Linked DNA regions of Homo sapiens: regions 2 and 3 are each linked to region 1. Evidence: fine-mapped expression QTL. A gene starts in region 1. Each other region holds a variant in brackets. All regions are shown on one strand. Distances are from middle to middle.

Region 1 (5,234 bases):
CACCTGAATCTCTATCTTAGCTCCATAATTTATTAGCTATGTGACCTTGAGTAGATTACCATCTTTTCCATGTCCTAGTTTTCTTATACACAAAATCGGGACAACAGTACCTACCTACCTCACAGGTTTGTGGTGAAGGTTAAATAAGTTAATATGAGCAAAGTCACTATACCTAGGTCTGACACATGGAAAATGCTCATTGTAGTTTGGCCACCAGAGCTATGGACAGACACACACACACACACACACACACACACACACACACACACACACACACGGGTGAGTATATCTGGATATGTTTATTTTTCTATGTCAATATATATCTGTTCCTCAATATGTATTTATACTGAATAATAATAATAATGATAGCCAACACTTACTGAACATGAGTTCTAGGCATTAGTTTAAGCACTTTACATATATTATCTTGTTCACCTTCAGAAAAAAACATGACATAACATTACATAACATGCTTTGATTATTCTCATTTTACAGATTAGAAAACTAAGGTCCAAAAAGGTTAAGTAACTTACAACTAAATTCACACAGCTAGCATATGACAGAGCCACAAAGCCGGACTTTTTAAGTCACTACTTATCACCTCCCCATTCATTTAATAATATTATTTAATATTACTCTTATAGTCTATAATATCATAATTTGTATGGTGCTTACTATTTCATCAAATATTTTCAAATACATTGGGTCTCATAGCGAGCCTGTGAAATGAGAAGTGCAATATTATTATTCTCATTTTTACAGGAAAGAAAATTGATAGAACTGAACCATGGGTGTCCTTTAGTGGAAGCGTTTCTATGTTACAAATATCTGGGGTACCTCTGTACATAGAGTCACATCATAAATGAACTGAGTACCTATAATGTGTCAAGCTCAGACATTAGTGCTGGGGATATAAGCTACAGACCTCCCCTGGAAGCATCATAGCCTAGGAAGAGAGACCAGTGTGGTAACCAAGAACCAAGAATCACGGTACACAATATGTAGTCTCTAAGGGAGACATGAAAGGAGTGCTTATGGAGCACAGAAGGAGGGGCCATCTGTGCCAGGGAGGTCTTAGAAAAGGCAAAGGGGTGGGGGAGGGGGAGGCTTTGATGGAAGAAAGAATGTGTGTGTGTGAATGTGAATCCATGTCTGTGTCTATGACAGTGTGGCTAGGCATCACTAAGTATGGATCTGAGTGTGTACCTGTTTATACAGGCTTACTTCTGTAAGCATTAATTTTTGTGTATGCTGGCTGCTGGTATAGAATGAGTAAGCCTGAACATAAAAGGGAATTTGTCTGGTATCACACACACCATAGCAGAATTGGACCTGCCCTGATAGGCACACCCTGTCATGACTCCCCAACACCAGGGGAACCAGAGATGCTGGTCCTTTCCCACTGTAGCAGCTGCCCACTCTAGAGCTATGGTGATTAGACCCACCAGTTTTTTTCAATCCATCAGTATGGATGTGTGGTGGTCTAATAGAGCCAGCCAGCTTGTATGATGAAGGGGGAGGAGGTACAGGTGTCTGTGGGTGTGCATCTGTGTGCACACTTCTGGTTGTGTGTGAATGCTTAGCATTGGCTGTTCCTAACTAGAGTGAGAAAACCTCCCTTCTCCCTTCATTGTCACCACCTTGGGGTGTTTATCCACTCACCCATTTCCATTGCCACCTGTATGGGACCGGCTTCCATCTTCACTTTAACGTTCTGGGGATATCTAAAATATACCTCTGTGCTGGGGTTAGGCAGAAGCAAGGCTGGGGAGTGTTGGTGCCCTTATTTGTTGGAGGCACTCCCTCCTTTCCCCGACCCCTGCCCCATTGTGGTCCAGGAATCTCTCAAAGGAGCAAAAATGTGGGCAAAGGCAAATAGTACTTGTGGAAGCCATGAAAAACCCGGAGGGTCACTCCCAGGGGTGGGCTGCTCAATGTGCCTCCCCTGGTGATAAAATCTGCTTTTAGGGCAAAATTAAGGAAGACAAGTGAGGACTCCTCTCTCCACAAATGTTCCCCTAGGAACTGGCGGGGTGGGAGTAAGGCTGTAATGCTCTTTTATTTCTTTAAGCTTGTATGATCAAAACAAGCTAAAATAATCACAAATAATATGTTATTGATATTAACTATGAGTATCTTCATAAAGTGGCAAAATAATTGAACTAGATTTTATTTTTTATTATAAGGTATACAAATTCAGGGCCATGGGATCATGTAAGGCAAAGGCATTATGTACTGGGACACACTGGTAATTTGTGTTTACATCTTGGCACAAGCACTGCCACGCAGTACAATATATTAGCATGTTAAGATGGGCAAGAATGAAGTGCAATAATCAACACATGTAGCATGTCATATTTCAGCTTGAATGAATGAGTGGGTGGAGAGAAAAACAAACATACAGAAAAGTAGAATTATCTCATGTCGTGGTCCGTGAATATGTGGATTCTCTTTCTAGTTCCACCAATGGCTTAATCTATTGAAAGGTTCTTACCATCTATTGATAAGTTAGTCTCATAGCAGATCATTTCTCAAAAATGTTAATATGCTTAATCAAACCTTACTGAAGTATCTTTTAAAATGTAAATGATCTCTAATAAATGTTGGCTGTTGCATGTCTAAATACTTTATTGCAGCATCTTATATAGTATATATTTCCATGTTCTGGACACAAATATTTTTCTAAATATTAAGGGAAAGTGGTGGCTTTGTAATATGCCAGGGGAATTCTTTGATAGTCAATATATTGTTTATTTGTACTTAAATATTTCATCAATAATCTGGAAAAGAGAAATAGCCTGACTACGGCTAGATACTGTTTAGAGGCTAAGATTTCTATCATGAACTGCTTTTCAATTGTTATATTTTATGGCACAGATTCAGTGGGAATCTGATCTGCTAAAATATTTGGGCTGTGAAAACTCCCACACTGTGACAGATGTCAAGTCCAATTAAGTGACTCATGTCCAGGTTTCTGTCCAATAGGATTTCCCATTAAATATCAATTTAGGGGAAAAAAATTCCATCCCCCTTCCTAAGCCTTTATCTCTTCCACCATCTCCAGGCTGAATCAATTGGTACCAGGAGAGCCCAGAAGCCACACACGCATCTCTGCCTCTTTGCTCTGGCTCTCCCACCCTCTTCCCGTCTTTCTCTGCTTCCTTGTCACTGTTACTCCAGGAGACGTTCACTTTTCACCAACCTTTCTCCAAGCATCTCCAAGCCACTGACTATATATATTTTGCTACAAGGTAAAGAGAAGAGGGGCTGGGGACGGGGGATATAGCCAAACCTTGAAAGACTTTGAAACTGGAAAATAGGTGTCTATTTATACAACATACAAGTAAGTGAGGGAAGAGGAAGAGGCAACCTTAGCTCCTAGTTACAGTATTGTGTTCCTGGGAACTGGGGAGATATCAGCTGAACAAAGCCTTATCTCAAAAAAAAAAAAAAAATCACTTCTGAGCAAGATCACATCTCTGTCCTGCACTTCCCAGTTTCTGCTCAGCCGTATTAAGGAAAAGAAAGGCATACGATAGGAGCGGAATCTTATCTTAACCATCTTTCTTATTGATTATTCCGCTATTAGAAAGTGGAGGAATCAGCCCTTTGATGTGATTGTGTTTATCTCTGCATCTCTTTTGTTATTTTTAGAGACCTAGAAGAGGAAAAAAGGCACGAGACTTTTCAACACATCGTTTAAAAAAATCATCAACGAATTTCTTGCAATGTTTGAGAACAATTAAAAGGAAAAAGCGTTTTTTAAAAAATCTATCAACTAAGTGAACAATCATTCATATCGTCTACATCCTGAGATATTATTGTCCCTCGCTGCGGACACCAGCGAGATGACAGCTGCTTTTTCATTTTTGAATGTAATAAATATTTGCTGCTTTTAATATTTTCCGGAATCTCCCCTCGCTATTCCTTGGAATTTTAACTCTAAAGATTGGAGAACAGATTATCAAAAAGGCTTTTGCAAGGTAAGACTCCTTTAAATAATTTTTTTCAGCTTGAAATAAGTTAGATTATTCATACTGTATCTATAGATGCAGTTCATTCCATAAAGAGATAAAACGCATACACGGCATACTATTTATGAATATTTTTAAAGATCTAGAGGAGAATTTAATGTGCTTTGAGGGCAACCCAGGAACTTTTTACCAGAACTACAACTATTTAGTGGCTTATTGTGATTTTCCATTACTCGTCTATTTATTTCTGCCCTTTCAAGCTGACTGTGTAGGTGCAAGTTGTTCTACTCATAAACGTACCCGAGAAAAGCCCGTAGGGAGTCACATGCAGCTCTCTGGGAGCATTTGTTTTTATTTTGCCGTAGAGGACCTGATTTCCTCGCAGGGAAATTAAAGCTGTTTTGGCCCAATTCGCTCCTCTGCAAGTGCGGTGCTGGGAACCGATCACCCATCCCCTTGCTTTTGTTTCTCTAGAAGCAAACGCTCCTATACGTCGCCGACGCGGATTTCTCCCGTGCCGAGCGTCGTGGAGGCTGCCCACGCCGGGGCCCCGAGTTCTCAGCCTGGTCCTCACTCCCGACGCCCAGGGGCGGTGCGTGCAGCCCCTGCAGGGGCCTTTCTCCTCCTGCCGGGCCCTTTCTCGAAGCCCGAATTACCCGGAAGCCCAGCGGTTCTGAGCGGCCCCCTCCCAGAAGGCGCACAGTCCGGGCCAGTGCTCCAGGCGCCCCAGAGAAGCCTGGCCAGGTGGCGTTTCCAAGAGGGCACAGTTAAGTTAGAGGAAGGCTAAGCACCGACATGCCCGGACTTGGCCAGGCCACCCGGGGACAGCTGCAGCCTGCCGAGCTCCGGTTCCGGGAGCGCCCGAACTTTGCCGGCAGAGATGCAGCTCCCGCCGGGACAACACGCGCTGCACCCGCTAGTCCCCGCCTGCCCCGCCCCGGGCCCTTCCCTTCTCTTCCCTTCCCTCTGCATCCTCTCCTCCCTCAGCGGCCCGGCTGCCGGCATTTTCCCGCAAGGTGGTCGCCAGACTGCCGGGCGCATTGTCTGATCCCACGTCGCCGTGTCCCTAGGTCCCCTATGTGTGTGGCTGTCTGCGTGACAGATGGTGCTCCGGGAGCCTGCGAGGGCATCGGAGTCAATTTTCTTTTTAAAGGCTCCCCCACGTTTGTTTAGTCATTTCTTTACGATTTCGGAGAAGCGCGAGGGGTCCAAGAAGCCTTCCCGCCCCCAGCCACTGGCTCTCCGCCTGCGCTCCAGGAT
Region 2 (5,234 bases), 120 kb before region 1:
TTACATGTTGTCCAAGAGGCACTAAGCTTAGATAATAGTGCATTCATTTAATTCAACAGGTTCATTCCTGAGTGCTCATATTTAATGAAAATGTCAGTGATGTTACTGTTTTTGTTGCTGTTGCTGATGCTATTTCTTACATGGAAGAGTTATATAACTAGGGAATACTGAGTGACATGATGAATTTGCTGTATTCATGGAGTCAATAAATAGAGTGATTCAGTAGAATGGATGAAAAACTTGGCCTATGCAGGCACAAATGCCTCACAGTTTCTCAGGATTAAAATATAGATGCTTATTGGAACTTCCAGAACCACTTCTATTGGTTGAGTATTGCATAAGGATGACAATGACGTATATCAAGAGTCTCAAAGCCAACTGGGCTTTTTAAATTAAAACCAGCAATTTGCATTGCTTTTATTTTTTTCCATTTTTATTTATTTTTATTTCTGTTTTTTATTTTTCCATAAGGTATTGGGGTACAAGTGATATTTGGTTACGTGAGTAAGTTCTTCAGTGGTGATTTGTGAGATTTTGGTTCACCCATCACCCAGGCAGTATACACTGCACCCCATTTGTAGTCTTCTATCCCTCGACCCCCTCCCACTCTTTCACCCCAAGTCCCTAAAGTCCATTGTATCATTCTTATGCCTTTGCATCCTCATAGCTTAGCTCCCACATGTCAGTGAAAACATATGATGTTTGGTTTTCCATTTCTGAGTTGCTTCACTTAGAATAGTAGTCTCCAATCTCATCCAGGTCACTACAAATGCCGTTAATTCATTTCTTTTTATGGCTGAGTAGTATTACATCAAATATATACACCACAATTTCTTTATTCACTCATTGATTGATGGGCATTTGCATTGGTTCCACGATTTTGCAATTGTGAATTGTGCTGCTATAAACCTGCCTGTGCAAGTATCTTTGTCGTATAATGACTCCGTTTCCACTGGGTAGATACCCAGTAGTGGGATTGCTGGATCAAATGGTAGTTCTACTTTTAGTTCTTTAAGGAATCTCCACACTGTTTTCCACATGTAGGTGGGGATGTACTAGTTTACATCCCCACTAGCAGTGTAGAAGTGTTCCCTGATCACTGCACCCACGCCAACATCTACTGTTTTTTGATTTTTTTATTATGGCCATTCTTGCAGGAGTAAGGTGGTATCACATTGCGGTTTTGATTTGCATTTCCCTGATCATTAGTGATATTGAGCATTTATTTTTTATTTTTTTTTTATTTTTTTTGAGACGGGGTCTTGATCTGCTGCTCTGTTGCCCAGGCTGGAGTGCAGTGGCGCGATCTCCGCTCACTGCAAGCTCCGCCTCCCAGGTTCACGCCATTCTCCTGCCTCAGCCTCCCGAGTAGCTGGAACTACAGGTGCCCACCACGACGCCCAGCTAATTTTTTTGCATTTTTAGTAGAGACGGGGTTTCACCATGTTAGCCAGGATGGTCTCGATCTCCTGACCTCATGATCCGCCCACCTTGGCCTCCCAAAGTGCTGGGGAGCATTTTTTCTTGTTTGTTGGGCCATTTGTTTGTCCTTATTTTGAGAATTGTCTATTCATGTCCTTAGCCCACTTTTTGATGCGATTGTGTTTTCTTACTGATTTGTTTGAGTTCATTGTAGATTCTGGATATTAGTCCTTTGTCAGATGTACAGATTGTGAAGATTTTGTCCCACTCTGTGGATTGTCTGTCTACTCTGCTGACTGTTCCTTTTGCTGTGCAAAAGCTCTTTAGTTTAATTAAGTCTCAACTATTTATCTTTGTTTTTATTGCATTTGCTTTTGGATTCTTGGTCATGAAATCCTTGCCTAAGAATGTCTAGAATGGTTTTTCCAATGTTGTCTTCTAGAATTTTTATAGTTTCAGGCATTAGATTTAAGTCCTTAATCCATCTTGAGTTGATTTTTATGTAAGGTGAGAGATGAGGATCCAGTTTCATTCCCCTACATGTGGCTAGCCAATTATCCCAGCACCATTTGTTGAAAAGGGTGTCCTTTCCCCACTTTATGATTTTGTTTGCTTTCTTGAAGACCAGTTTGCTGTAAGTATTTGGGTTTATTTCTGGGTTCTCTATCCTGTTCCATTGATCTATGTACCATTTTTATACCAGTACCATGCTGGCTTGTTGACTATGGCCCTACAGTATAGTTTGTAATCAGGTGGTGTGATGCCTCCAGATTTGTTCTTTTTGCTTAGACTTGCTTTGGGTATGTGGGCTCTTGTTTGGCTCCATATGAATTTTAGAATTGTTTTTTCTAATTTTGTGAAGAATGATGGTGGTATTTTGATGGGGATTGCAATGAATTTGTAGATTGCTTTTGGCAGTGTGGTCATTTTCACAATATTGATTCTACCTATCCATGAGCATGGGATGTGTTTACATTTGTTTGTATCATCTATGATCTCTTTCAGCAGTGTTTTGTAGTTTTCCTTGTAGAGGTTTTTTGACTCCTTGGTTAGGTATATTCCTAGGTATTTTATTTTTTTGGCAGCCCTTGAAAAAGGGGCTGAGTTCTTGATTTGATTCTCTGCTTGGTCGCTGTTGTATAGAAGAGCTACTGATTTGTGTACATTAATCTTGTATCCGGAAACATTGCTGAGTTATTTTACTAGTTCTAGGAGCTTTCTGGAGGAACCTTTAGGGTTTTCGAGGTAAATGAGCATATGGTCAGCAAACAGTGACAGTCTGACTTCCTCTTTACTGATTTGGATGCCCCTTATTTCTTTCTCTTGTCTGACTGCTCTGGCTAGGACTTCCAGTACTATGTTGTAGAGGAGTGGTGAGAGTGGGCATTGTTACCTTGTTCCAGTTCTCAGAGAAAATGCTTTCAACTTTTCCTCATTTGGTATTATGTTGGCTGTGGGCTTGTCGTAGATGGCTTTTATTACATTGAGGTATGTACCTCATATGCCAGTTTTGCCGAGAGTTTTAATCATAAAGGGATGCTGGATTTTGTCAAATGCTTTTTCTGCATCTATTGAGATGATAGTGTGATTTTTGTTTTAATTCTGTTTATGTGGTGTACCACATTTACTGACTTGCAT[C/ATATTAAACCATC]ACTGCATCCCTGGTATGAAACCCACTCAATCGTGGTGGATTATCTTTTTGATATGTTGCTGGATTTGGTTAGCTAGTATTTTGTTAAGGATTTTAGCATCTATGTTCATCAAGGATATTGGTCTGTAGTTTTCTTTTTTGGTTTTGTCCTTTCTGGTTTTGGTATTAGGGTAACGCTAGCTTCATAGAATGAATTAGGGAGGGTTCCTTCTTTCTCTATCTTGTGGAATAGTGTCAAAAGGATTGGTACCGATTCTTCCTTGAATGTCTGGTAGAATTCTGCTGTGAATCCATCTGGTCCCAGGCACTTTTTGTTGGTAAATTTTTTTTTTTTTTTTGAGACAGAGTTTCGCTCTTGTTGCCCAGGCTAGAGTGCAATGGTACGAACTCAGCTCACTGCAACCTCCATCTCCTGGGTTCAAGCGATTCTCCTGCCTCAGCCTCCCAAGTAGCTGGGATTACAGGCATGCACCACCACACCCAGCTAAATTTGTATTTTTAGTAGAGATGGGGTTTCACCATGTTGGTCAGGGTAGTCACGAACAGTAATTTTTTAATTACCATATCAGTCTCACTGCTTGTTATTGGTCTGTTCAGAGCATCTAATTTTTCCTGATTTAAGCTAGGAGGGTTGTATTTTTCCAGGAATTTATCCATCTCTTCTAGGTTTTTTAGTTTATGTACGTAAAGGTGTTCATAGTAGCCTTGAATGATCTTTTGTATTTCAGTGGTATCAGTTATAATATCTCCTGTATCGTTTCTTAATGAGGTTGTTTGGATTTTCTTTCTTCTTTTCTTGGTTAATCTTGCTAATGGTCTATTAATTTTATTTATCTTTTCAAAGAACCAGCTTTTTGTTTCATTTACCTTTTGTATTTTTTTGTGTGTTTCAGTTTCATTTAGTTCTGCTCTGATCTTGGTTATTTTTGTTTTCTTCTGCTGGGTTTGGGTATGGTTTGTTCTTGTTTCTTTAGTTCCTTGAGGTGTGACCTTAGAATGTCAGTTAGTCTCTTTCAGTCTTTTTGATACAGGCATTTGGTGTTATGATCTTCCCTCTTAGCACCACCTTTGCTATATCCCAGAGGTTTTGATAGGTTGTGTCATTACTGTCGTTCAGTTTGAATAATTTTTTAATTTCCATCTTGATTTTGTTTTTGACCCAATGCTCATTCAGAAACAGGTTATTTAATTTCCATGTATTTGTATGGTTTCGAAGGTTCCTTTTGGAGTTGATTTCCAGTTTTATTCCACTGTGGTCTGAGAGAGTGTTTGATATAATTTCAATTTTCTTAAATGTATTGAGACTCTTATGGCCTATCATATGGTCTATCTTGGAGAAAGTTCCATGAGTTATTGAATAGAATGTGTATTCTGTGGTTGTTGGATGAAATGTTCTGTATATATCTATTAAGTCCATTTGTTCCAAGGTATCGTTTAAATCCATTGTTTCTTTGTTGACTGTCTTTCTTGATGACCTGTCAAGTGCTGTCAGTGGAGTATTGAAGTCCCCCACTATTATTTTGTTGCTGTCTATCTCATTTCTTAGGTCTATTAGTAATTGTTTTATAAATTTGGGAGCTCCAGTGATAGGCACATATATGTTTTGGATTGTGATATTTTCCTCTTGCACAAGGCCTTTTACTGTTATATAATGTCCCTCTTTGTCTCTTTTAACTGCTGTTGCTTTAAAGTTTGTTTTGTCAGATATAAGAATAGCTACCCTGCTCACATTTGGTGTCTATTTGCATGAAATGCCTTTCCCCCTGCTCTTTACTTTAAGCTAATATGAGTCCTTATGTGTTAGGTTAGTCTCCTGAAGGCAGCAGGTAGTTGGCTGGTGAGTTCTTATCCGTTCTGAGGTTCTGTATCTTTTACGTGGAGCATTTAGGCCATTTACATTCAATGTTAGTATTGAGATGTGAGGTACTGTTGCATTCATTGTGCTATTTTTTTGCCTGTGCACCTTGGATTTTTTGTTTTATGTTTTTGCCTTTTAACTTGTTTTTTGGTTTTATAGGTCCTGTGTGATTTATGCTTTAAAGAGTTTCTGTTTTGATGTGTTTCCAGGATTTGTTTCAAGATTTAGAGCTTCTTTTAGCAGTTCTTGTAGTGGTGGCTTGGTATATCGACGTCTCTCACCAATTGTTTGTCTGAGAAAGACTGTATCTTTCCTT
Region 3 (5,234 bases), 28 kb after region 1:
GCTGTCAGTCTGGGCATTGGAAGAATTACTAAGGACAAGATGACCTAACGTGACCCAGATATGGGAGGGAAGGAGAATAAAAAAAGGAGAAAAAGAATAACAAGAAAGGGGAGGGAAAAGACCAGCAGCAATGAGGGAAAACTAGAAAATTTTGTGTCTGAGAAGGAATTATGACAGAATACAAGTTGGGGGACAAGTTTGCCTTTGCCTCAAGCTCCTCCCTCCCTTGTCCTTCACAGGCCAAAGGACCAGACTACCCTCAGAACCACCTGCAGAAGAATCCTGTTCCCTCCCATGCTAAGTTTCTGGGTGCATAGTTAGAGGTCTTGCCTGTCTCTAACCCTGTTTTTCACCTGGCTTGGGATAATGCAGATAATGCAAAGAGTTGGAGCCTGTGCTCAGCTCTGTTAACTACTTGTGAGAGGTGGACACAAGCACAGGCCTGTAGTCAACATTTGTTTGCACCATGAATTTATTATTTATTATTGTGTCCCTGAGACAATATGACCCATAAAGAGATGGTGCCAGTTAATCGTAGGTCAGTCTCCATTCAAATAAAGTCCACATTCTCTTTGGAGAGCAGACATCTTTGCAAGACTACTGACTACCAGTCATCTCCAGCCCTTAGCTTAGGCTTGATCACTGTGACTCTGATAAGCTTCTCCTTGGCATGCTAGCCTCACACGCTCTCTCTAAGTCTACTCCAAAAGGCTTTCTGGCAGCTCTATTTTGTAGGCTTGGTCTGTCCCACCCACATATTTTCTATTGCTGATTGCCAAGATGCCTGTAGCCAATGTTTGTTTGCACCATGAATTTATTCTCTAGTAGGAGGAGGGATAAGAAGTTCAATAGCCGAATTAGTATACAAAAAGGGCAAAAAGAGGTAGTGTGGAAATATAAATTAAACTCTGTGGGATCCCAAGAGAAAAGATGATTAATTACAACTAAGTGAATCAAGAAATGCTTCACGGAAATGGTATTCACACTGGGCTTCTGTGGGCAGGTTTCAACAGACAAGGTGGGAAAAAGGCATTCCAAGTGAGAACAATGTAAGATGGGGACAGAGCTGGAAAAGTTCAGTGTAGGTGGAGTTCTGATCATCAAGGGCCTTCAATGCTGTGCTCAGGAATTTGAACTTCATTCCATAGACAGTTGTGGACCAGTGGAAGCTTCTAAGCAGAGGAATGGTATCAGATCTGATGATAGTGACCATTTATTGAGTACTCACTATAATCTAGGCATCGTGCTAAACACTTCACAGGCATTCACTTAGCCTTCATAATCACCCCATGAGGATGGTGGACTTGGACAGTAGTTTGAGAATGGGCTAGAAGCAAAATAAATGGTTAGGGATGACATAGTAGGAGAGGCCATGGTCTCAGTGGTTTAGTCCCTTGTCCCTAAATTGTAAAGTTTACTAACAATGGCAATGAGAACTGGAGTTAGAAATCTGAGGTGGCAGAATCAGAGGACCTGGTGACCAGTTAGCTCCTGGGGTCAAAGGAAGCAAGTGGTTAGGGGATCTAGTAAACAATGCCAGCAGACCCTTGTCTTGGGAACTTAGCTCCCCTACCTTCCACCAAAATCCCAATCTCAGGAGAAAGGGGCATTTTGCTATCCACTGAATATGAGACTTGAAGATTCAGAAGATTATAGCCATGAAGGCTTTTCCAGTTGGTCCAGGTGGGAGACCAGACAAGATGTAGAAGCAAATCAATTAGGGGCAATAAAAACACTTCCCTATCTGAAGCGCTCATCATATGGCAGGCACTGCACTAGGCACTTCATAGACCTCATCTCACTGAATATTAACAATAACCTCATGATTAGGGTCCCTGCTGTACTCTAAGATAACTGAGATTTAGACAGATTAGGTAACTAGCCTGGGTTCACATACTAAGCAGAATTGAGATACACACCCAGAGTCTATGCTTATGACAGTGCAAGAAACTGCCTAAGAGGAAGACTTAGGCAGAGAAGACTATGACAGTGCAAGAAACTGCCTAAGAGGAAGACAGACTTCTCAAAAAGCAGCCAAGACAAGTCTGGCTCAAATTGGATTCATTCTCATGTCTACTAATGCATTTATTAATTTACCCTTTCATTTATTCATACACTAAACAATTGCTGAGCACCTGCTCTGTGCGGGCATTGTGCTAGCTATTTGGGATAAAAAAAAACTAATAAGACACCATGTCTGTCTTCAAGGAGACTATTCTAGAAGTGAAGGCAGGCAAGTGAACAGATAATTATAATGCACAGAGGAGGAAAGCAGCTAACCTGGCTTGTGGGGCTAAGGAAGGGAGTTGGAGAAGACTTCCTAAGGTGATACCTGAGCTCAGTCCAGGAGTAGAGGGTGGCTAGGCTAAGGCAAGGAAGTGAGAAGAGAGCAATGTTCCAGGCAGTAGGACTGTTGCAAAGGGGTTTGGGTCATAATCCTGAGAGACATGATCCAAAATGCCATAATCCTGAATACTGAAATCCCAAAAGATTTAAACCCCTAAAGTCTAAATTACAATCACAGTATAGACGTATCATTTTAGGCAGAACTATTACTTGTTATTGTCTTCATTGGAAATGAGGTATGTTTAAGGAGATGTGTGTGAGTGCCAAGTTGACAAGGGGTGAACTTGTGGACTTAATTTTAAATGTCAACTTGACTGGATTAAAGAATACCTAGAAATCTGGTAAAGCGTTATTTTAGGTGTGTTTGTGAGGGTGTTTCCAGAGGAGATTAGTGCCTGAGACTGAGTGGATTAGCTGGGGAAGATCTTTACCCAATATTAGAGGACACCATCCAATCGGCAAGGGTCCTGGAGAGAACAAATACAGAAGGCTATTGGCATCTGAGAGCTGGAACAGACTTTTCTTCTGCTGCCTTGGACATTAGAAAACACTGAAACTTCCTCAACAAATGAAGAGATGTCCTTTTTGTGCACCTGTATTTATGAAAGATAAGATTTCTCGAGATCGGCCGGGCACGGTGGCTCACGCCTGTAATCCAAGCACTTTGGGAGGCCAAGGCGGGCGGATCACGAGGTCAGGAGATGGAGACCATCCTGGCTAACACAGTGAAACCCCATCTCTACTAAAAATACAAAAAATTAGCCAGGCGTGGTGGCGGGCGCCTGTAGTCCCAGCTACTCGGGAGGCTGAAGCAGGAGAATGGCGTGAACCC[A/G]GGAGGTGGAGCTTGCAGTGAGCCGAGATAGTGCCACTGCACTCCAGTCTGGGCGGCAGAGCGAGACTCCGTCTCAAAAAAAAAAAAAAAAAAAACAATTTCTCGAGATCTCAGCTCTTTGAGAAAGTGCATATGATGAGTTGGTGACCCATTGCATTTTTTGATCTATTTCATCAAAAGACTTAGGTTGTTTATCACAGTATTTCAGATGGTTACAGTTATGAGACTGGGTGTACACAATTACCAACCATAATGATATTTATATATACATTTCACTTTTTGACCTATTTCTTTATGAATACAGTTGTCTGCTCATCACGATGTGACTGTCAGTATACCTGAGTAGTTATGATTGCAAAAATGTATTACTTTTATCTATTTTATTGTATAAAGTGGCCTGTGAGTGTTCTGTCATTTTTATATGTATCTCAAATAAAATATCTTTAAACTAATTTTAAAATTACTTTTCCCAGAATTGTAATTTTGTGATTTTGATTTTTGGGGATTTCAACATGTGGGATTATCACATTTGAGATTGTGTCTTTTGGGATTATGATTGGCTCTTGGTGCAAAGAAACAACAGACAGAAACAACAAGCTCTATACTGAGATCTACAAGCAATTTGGATTGTCAAAGGCAATCTTGAGAGGCAGAGGAGACAAGAGGCTGGAGTAGGGGCAAGAGAATGTTCCATTCAGAGTCATGGAGCTTGGATTTCATCCTACAGGCCATGGGGAGCCACTGAAGGGGAGACTTAGTTTCATTAAAGCTCACTCTGACTGTAGTGGGATGACAGTGGGCCAGGAGGCTGGGGAGGAGCCTGCTGCAATGGTACAAGTGAAGGATGACGTTGATCTGGACTAGGTAATGCTGGCAGAGGCTCAGAGGAAGGGCAGGTCTGAGTAATGTTTAAGGGTGAAATGGGTAGCACTTAGGAGTGATGCTCGGTGGGGACAAAGGGTTGAGGCCCCTTGAGGATGACTCATCCTTGAAGGAATCCCCCAGCAGGTTTCCCACTCTCAGCAGTAGCATAGGTAGTGTGGACACTATCAACCCTTATGCCCAGCACAGATGGTCTGACCAAATGCTCATGGTTACCAAAACACTGCTATTGTGGGGAGCTGAGTCTCTATGCAGAAAGGCTTCAGTCCTGAGGCCACTGGCCAGAAAAAGTCCCTCTGCCTCCAAACTACCCCTTCTTGCTGGGAAGGAAAGTGTTAGCTCAGGAGATCTGAGTTGCTCAAACCCTATACATTCCCAAGAAAGGCCTGATTTCCGCAATGGCCCTTGGCCAGTTTCCGGGAGATAAGCTCTGAGTCCCTGGATATTCTGCCTGATAAGGGACATTTTGTTTGCTTGAGGCCTTGGGTCACATGTTACCAGTTGGATCAGATTGTGCTAACAATGTGACTTGTGGCAAACACTTGCTTTTGGTCTAGGAGTGCTGGAGTCTGAGTAGCTGAAACCAGTCACACAGGTACAGCATGCCTACATGACAGATCCCCAATAAAAACTCTAGACACCAAGGCTTGGGTGAGCTTCCTTAGTTGGCAACACTTTATATGTGTTATCACACACTGAGGCTGAGAGGATTAAATACATCCTGTGCAGCTCTATTGGGAGGGAACATCTGGAAGCTTGCACCTGGTTTCTCCTGGACTTTGCCCCATGTATCTTTTCCCTTTGCTAATTTTAATCTATATCCTTTTGCTGGAATAACCTGTAACCATCAGTACAACAGCTTTCTGAGTCCTGTGAATCTCTCTAATGAATTGTCAATGAAACCTTGAGCGCCTGGGGACCCCTGACACACACCCAACTCTGGAGTGACAGAAGAAGGGACTGTTGGGAAAGCATGCAGCCAGAACCTGGCATTTCACCACAGAGTAGGTTCTGTGCAAACAACATAAGTGGGGCACTTATGTATTGCACAGAACAGATGGGCAGGAATGAACACTTGCAGAAAACACTGGGAGGATGTTTCCCAGCTTATCCAGAGTCCAAGGCCACTCCGCTCTTCTCCAAGTGGCCTTGGTGGTCTTGCTTTTGTCCAACA

Which allele goes with the higher level. Alleles are on the strand shown, and positions count from the first base shown. SD is a standard deviation of normalised expression in the study named. Not every link is listed here.
For the expression in caudate of the gene that starts at base 3,073 in region 1, allele ATATTAAACCATC in region 2 goes with a higher level than allele C (small effect, 0.26 SD a copy in GTEx).

The links. PIP is the estimated chance that this variant, and not a neighbour inherited with it, causes the effect. A credible set is the group of variants that fine-mapping cannot tell apart.
Region 2: its variant is the best candidate, but not a certain one, in a credible set for the expression of NHLH2 in caudate (GTEx, PIP 0.64).
Region 3: its variant is the best candidate, but not a certain one, in a credible set for the expression of NHLH2 in lung (TOPMed, PIP 0.54).

Annotation. Positions count from the first base shown.
Region 1 is chr1:115,838,965-115,844,198 of GRCh38, reverse strand. It overlaps NHLH2 (nescient helix-loop-helix 2), which reads left to right and starts at 3,073. Exons shown (of 3, transcript NM_005599.3): 1 at 3,073-3,251; 2 at 3,655-3,983.
Region 2 is chr1:115,963,321-115,968,554 of GRCh38, reverse strand. The region is part of intron 1 of LOC101928977 (a long non-coding RNA gene); the gene reads left to right. Among named protein-coding and RNA genes, the nearest start is that of SLC22A15, 11 kb to the left of the region's middle. The variant C/ATATTAAACCATC (reference allele first, on the strand shown) is at 3,061.
Region 3 is chr1:115,810,653-115,815,886 of GRCh38, reverse strand. No RefSeq gene overlaps it. Among named protein-coding and RNA genes, the nearest start is that of NHLH2, 28 kb to the left of the region's middle. The variant A/G (reference allele first, on the strand shown) is at 3,179.